Linked DNA regions of Homo sapiens. The protein of the gene in region 2 purifies or fractionates together with the protein of the main gene of each other region. This does not show direct contact. Each region holds a gene or a part of one and is shown on either strand. Other genes may lie near its edges. The genes, in order: GALNT12 and RXYLT1.

The links.
Region 1: the proteins of RXYLT1 (region 2) and GALNT12 purify together in Homo sapiens (affinity purification with mass spectrometry; one large-scale study listed by BioGRID and IntAct). This does not show direct contact.

The regions. Positions count from the first base shown.
Region 1 is NC_000009.12:98,847,869-98,850,658, reverse strand, and holds the end of GALNT12 (polypeptide N-acetylgalactosaminyltransferase 12), read right to left. Parts: intron 1,708-2,790; coding exon 1,567-1,707; 3' UTR 578-1,566; downstream 1-577. UniProt on the Homo sapiens protein: Catalyzes the initial reaction in O-linked oligosaccharide biosynthesis, the transfer of an N-acetyl-D-galactosamine residue to a serine or threonine residue on the protein receptor.
Region 2 is NC_000012.12:63,806,865-63,810,275, reverse strand, and holds the end of RXYLT1 (ribitol-5-phosphate xylosyltransferase 1), read right to left. Parts: intron 1,602-3,411; coding exon 1,184-1,601; 3' UTR 714-1,183; downstream 1-713. UniProt on the Homo sapiens protein: Acts as a UDP-D-xylose:ribitol-5-phosphate beta1,4-xylosyltransferase, which catalyzes the transfer of UDP-D-xylose to ribitol 5-phosphate (Rbo5P) to form the Xylbeta1-4Rbo5P linkage on O-mannosyl glycan.

The DNA.
Region 1 (2,790 bases), on a different chromosome or scaffold from region 2:
TATGTGTTGCTACAAAGAGTCTGTTTGGTCCATCTTAAGAGATCTGTTTTAACGTGAATGCCAGTCAGTTGTCTTTAAACTCCAAAGGGAGGAGAGGGTAATGAGGCTTGTCTGGATACTGCTCCCTTCTCATCATGGCCTGAACTAGTTTTTCAGTTCTGAACTAGGTTCAGGTTTTTTTGGGATCTTCTTGGCCAAGAGAGGAGTCCATTCAATCAGATGGGGGACCCCAGAATTTTATTTTTTATTTTTTGAGGCAAAGTCTGGCTCTGTCGCCCAGGCTGGAGTAGAGTGGCGCGATCTTGGCTCACTGCAACCTCCGCCTCCTGGGTTCAGGAGACTCTTCTGCCTCAGCCTCCGGAGTAGCTGGGATTACAGGCGCATGCCACCACGTCCAGCTAATTTTTGTATTTTTAATAGAGACGGGGTTTCGCCATGTTGACCAGGCTGGTCTCGAACTCCTGACCTCAAGTGATCTGCCCTCCTTGCCCTCCCAAAGTGCTAGGAGTATAGGCGTGAGCCACCGCACCCGGCCCTAGAATTTTATTTTTGGTTTACAGTACAAAAAGATCTGCAGTCAGTGTTCTCACATCTTTTTAATCATTCATATTGACTTAATCAGGTTGACAAAATCTCAGGGTTGGTCTGGGATCATTCACAAATCAGAATTACTCAGAGAAATTTTCACAGCAGTTGCAGCAGCACAAACTCTAACGCTGATTTAAATTAATAACTGTTATTAATGAACAAACTTGAAAAAGGAATTTCATATAGAACATTACATTTCTCCCTGACACTACCGTATCATAAAAATTAAAAATGATATAAACATGTTTTAAAGTCATAGTGGTAGAACCAGCCACACTACAGTGCGGCATTGTTAGAAGTTCGCTCTCAAGTTGACTCAGCTTAGTAAAGCAAATTGTTCTCTGAGATTTCAGCTTTGGTTAGTCCTCTTTGGCTGACATGAACATTATGGAGTGTTAACTGTGGTAGCAACACATAACCAAAAAGCATTCTTTTTAAAATACATCTAGAAGATCTCAATGACCTGAATAAATCAATACAATGTTCCTAGTGACAGTCTCTCTATACTGGGAAAACTTTAACCCCGCAGCTGAGGTATTATCAGTTAATGCAAAGTACGTTGCTTGAACCTGATTTCCACCCATGCAGATATCTTCGTACCTGGGAATTCTTGTAAATACCAAAATAAAATCTTTATCTTTTTTGCTAATGAGAGTAAAAGGCACGACTGTAAAATATACATCTTGATAGAAAAATATTATAAGGTTTTAATTTTCTAAATACCAAGGGTTAACATCTTACGATTACCCTTTGAAAATAGGGTATTTTGGAACATTTAAAAAGTTCTCAAAATAAGTACAAAGCTTATTCACATTTTTACTAAATCCAACACAACTTTCACAAATGGCAAAATGATTGCCTCTTCAAAGCAATGCAGCCTAGTTTTTGGTGGGTTCTGGTCACTGCTTAGCTAAGTCTTTGTTGGGCAGAGTCCTGGCTCCACAGTCTCCTTCGATGGGCTCCTTGATACACGAGGCTTCATAACATGCGCTCTTTGAAGAACCATTTCTGATGATCCGAGTTGGTGCAGTCTCGTAAGAGTGGAACGAAACTGTCACTCGACTCCTTCCTCGCAGCCTGGACACATTTCTTGGACTGTTCGTGAAATAAAGATCCATCCTACAAAAGATAACAGAATGACAGGCAAGTCATCAGAAAAGTCTCTTTTTCCTAAAGACATGTTTTAAAGAGATCAGGGTCTGATTTTTACCATTTCAGAAATATTTATTGAGGGGTAAGTGTCTTCCGTGTAACGCAGCAACTCAGGACTGTCCCGGGGACACAGCACCAGGCTTGTACAGGCTGCGTCCCGCTTGCCTCTCACAGGACCGATGGTGCCACCTGCTGGCTGCTCTGGGCATGTGTCATACCCTACATCTCCCTATTGCATTTGGCTTCCTTCAGGGAAATCAGGAACAAAGATCCTTTGTTTATCTCTTTCACTCCTCTTAGGTCAACTCATTCCGTGCAGGGTGATCTCTTTCTCTTAGGTATTTAAACAGAGTGTGGAAACTTGGCTGTAGTCCCAGCTCAGCCACAGACCAGATGGATGAGGAAGCCAGTCACTTGGCCTGAGCTACTCACCTGTCACACATCAGAGAATCAGTGGGTTATATGCCTTGTGCCAATTCCCAAACCCCAAAGACGATGGTCTTCTTTAATGACCTCCTGCTTCTCTCCTTTCTGCCAGCCCTTGCTCAATTATCTCAGCAAGTCTCTCTCTCAGGCCTGGTGTTTATCTTTTCCCTCTGCCTCTCTGTTATAAGCTGTATGCAACGAACTTAATCATGGCTGAGCAGCAAACAGGCAGAGTGAATAACAACATCAGTGAAAAACCTTTGTGATGTGCTGTTCACTAAATGGAACTTTTTTCATTCAAAAAAATCCAAACTCATGTTTTGTAGAATCCAAGAAATGACATTTCAGAGGTTTTTAGGCCTACATAAGAAAATACAAGGCTGGGCACAGTAGCTCACGCCTGTAATCGCAGCACTTTGAGAGGCTGAGGCAGGTGGATCACTTGAGGCCAAAGAGCTCAAGACCAGCCTGGCCAACATGGCAAAACTCCATCTCTACTAAAAATACAAAAAATTAGCTGGGCGTGGTGGCGGGCGCCTGTAGTCCCAGCTACTCAGGAGACTGAGACAGGAGAATCGCTTGAACCCAGGAGGCAGAGGTTGCAGTGAGCTGAGATTGCACCCC
Region 2 (3,411 bases):
TTACTTTATAACTTTTTAAACCTTTTGATTATTTTATAATAACACTGCTGAAAACATTATACTGCTGTACAAAAATATTTTTTATATCCTTATTTTATAAACTTTAGTCTATTTAAAAATTTAAAAAATTTGTTACTTTTATTTTCTTACTTTTTGTTAAAAATGAAGACACAACCGCATTAGCCTAAGCCTAGACAGAGTAAGAATCATTAACATCACTGTCTTCCACCTCCACATCTCACCCCACCACAAGGCCTTCAGGGGCAATAATAGGCATGGAGCTGCCATCTCCTGATAGCAATGCCTTCTTCTTCTGGATACCTCCTGAAGGATCTGCCTGAGGCTGTTTAACTTTTTTTTTTTTTTTAATAAGTACAAGTAGTACACTCGAAAATAATGATGATATGGTTTGGATCTGTGCCTCACCCAAACCTCATGTTGAATTGTAATCCCCAGTGTTGGAGGCAGGGCCTGGTGGGAGGAGATTGGGTCATGGAGGTGGATTTCCCCTATGGTGCTGCTTTCCTGGTAGTGAGTGCTTGTGAGATCTGGTTGTTTAAAAGTGTGTAGCACCCACCCCCTTTTCCCTCTGCTCTGGCCACGTGAAGACATGTCTGCTTCCCCTTCGCTTTCTGCCAGGATTGTTAAGTTTCCTGAAGTTTTCATGCTTCCCGTACAGTCTGTTGAACTGTGAGCCAATTAAACCTCTCTTCTTTATAAATTACTCAATCTCAGGCATTTATTCATAGCAATGCAAGAACTAATACAAATTGTAAAAAGTATAGTATAGTAAATACATAAACCAGTAACATAGTCATTTATTGTCATTATTAAATATTATGTACAGGACATAATTGCTGTACTTTTACTTGACTGGCAGTGCAATAGATTTGTTTACACCAGTATCACCACAAACACGTGAGTGATGTATTGCAATACATATGTCATCACTAGGCTATGACATCACTAGGCGATAGAAATTTTTCAGCTCCATTATAATCTTATGGGACCACTATCATATATGTAGTCTACCACTGACTGAAATGTCATTATGTGGCATACATAATGTAGAGTTTTCAAGGGTACCTTAAAGAACATCTATAAATACATACACACACAAACACATTTATACACCCAGTAGTCAAAATGATTTTAAAAATCACATGTTAGCTCAAAAAGATAATTAACTTTTATTATTCATTAAAAATGAGCTTTCTAAAATATTAGTAAATTTCATTTTAAGCTCTGTCTTGAAGTGCTGATACCACTGAAGTAACATTTTTCTTCTTTCAATTTTTTCTTGTAAAATTATAGTTTTCTCTTTTTCTAAAACAGCAGGGAGTTCCTTCCAGTTCTTGATAAAGATAAAGGGAGCACCCATGGACTTGAGTAACTGCAGAGGAGCACCGTGGTGCACAGATGTATTCCCACAGTTGCCAGCTGTCATCACGTCTTCCACCACAGGAATGGAGCCATAGGAGCAAGCCTCATAGATTCGATAGCATTCTGTGTTTACTCCGACCGGGCACAATGTGAGATCACTCTGAAGCAAGGCATCTTGGTAATTCTTAAGACTTTCATTTGTTTCCTGAGGCTGCCAGCTAGAAAATCAGAAAAACAACTGTAGTTTTCACTTTACTAAGTATATAGTTTGTGAACAAAAATACCTTATCTTTTAATAAAATCAGTTTCAGGAAATGGTGAAACTTTATAGAGATGATAGGCATAAGAGATATCCAAAATCCTGGCCCAAACAGATTTCTTAAAAATGTTGAAGAATTGGAACATTTTACAGTTGTACATTTATAAAATCTAGGAGTCACCGTAACACTTCTGAATGGATAATAATAATTCAACCGATACTTTGGGAGTGCTAGGTCCTCTCTTCCCTACCTTGCCCTCATGGAGCATATATTCTAGTTCTAGTGGTGGAGATGGATAGTGACCAAGTGAAGTCAGTAAATTATTTAGATGGGGTAGAATACTGTGAGAAAAGAGCAAAGGAGTAAGTAGAGCAGGAGTTTCTAAGGGGGTAGGGTTGCAATCTTAAATAAGTGATGAGGGACTGTCTTACTGCGGCAGCATCTGAGCACAGAGTTGGGGATGAAGGAGCAAGCCACGTAGATCTGGCGGGATAAAAGAGCAAGCAAGAGTGAAGGCCATGAGACAGCATGTGCCTGGCATGTTCAAGGAGCTGCGGGGAAGCCAGGGTGGCTGAGGTAGGGTAACTGAGGGAACAGGCGCAGAAGATAAAGTCTGAATGGTCACACGGGACTCTATCATGCAGGCTTTTGATCATGGGGTGACATGACGTGATGTAGGTTTCATCAGAATCAATCTGGCTATTGTGTTGAGAATGGACTGTACAGGGGCAAGGGTAGAAACTGAAAGATCAGTAAAGAAAGATAGACGCGGCTGGGTGCGGTGGCTCACGCCTGTAATCCCAGCACTTCATGAGGCCAAGGCGGGTGGATCACCTGAGGTCAGGAGTTCGAGACCAACCTGGCCAACAAGGTAAAACCCCGTCTCTACTAAATACAATAATTAGCCGGGCGTGATGGCGTGCACCTGTAATCCCAACTACACGGGAGGCTGAGGCAGAAGAATCGCTTGAACCTGGGAGGTAGAGGTTGCAGTGAGCCGAGATCCTGTCACTGCACTACAGCCTGGGCAATAAGAGTGAAACTCAGTCTCAAAAGAAAAAAAAAAAGATAGATGCTTTCTCCTGACTATTCTCAGTGAAATAAGCAATAGGGTCATAAAGTAAGAAAGGCGGAGGTGTTAGAGTGTAGGAGAGAAGAAGGTATAAAACAGCCTTCTAGGAGAGTGGGAGAATATATGGACAAGGGAAATATAAGACTGCTGGGCACCTGAGGTTCAAAGTCACGTGTTTAAATAAAGGTCAATTAGCACCTTTCTCCAATTATGTGTAGTTGCATGGGTGCAGGCATGGAGTAGGCAGAGAGCTGGATTTAACCAGAGTTATGGTTTGCCAGATTAGGGAATTAGGGAGCTGAAGGTATAGGCAATTATGATTGACAATGAAATTTAAGTTAGGTGAAGAATAAAATGAAGAAAGGGGAGTGAAGGACAACAAAAGGGTAGTAGGAACAATAGATTCTAAGTGCCAGCTGAATTGTCAGAGTCAGATTATTACACGGAATGAGCTGGAATGACAGATGATGGTGGTTGTAGAAAGAGATGCTGGGACTTGAGATCATGTTCAGAAGGTGCAGTATGTGTAATGACAAAGTCTAGGAAATAACCATGAGAGAGAATGGCTGAGGTCAGGTGGAAGCCCAGATTATTGGAGGAGGGGAGGTGAAGGAACTGCAAAGACCAAAATGACAGAAAGACCATCTATGTAGATTTGCCAGTCACTAAGAATTGAGAACAGAGTAGTGTCAGACA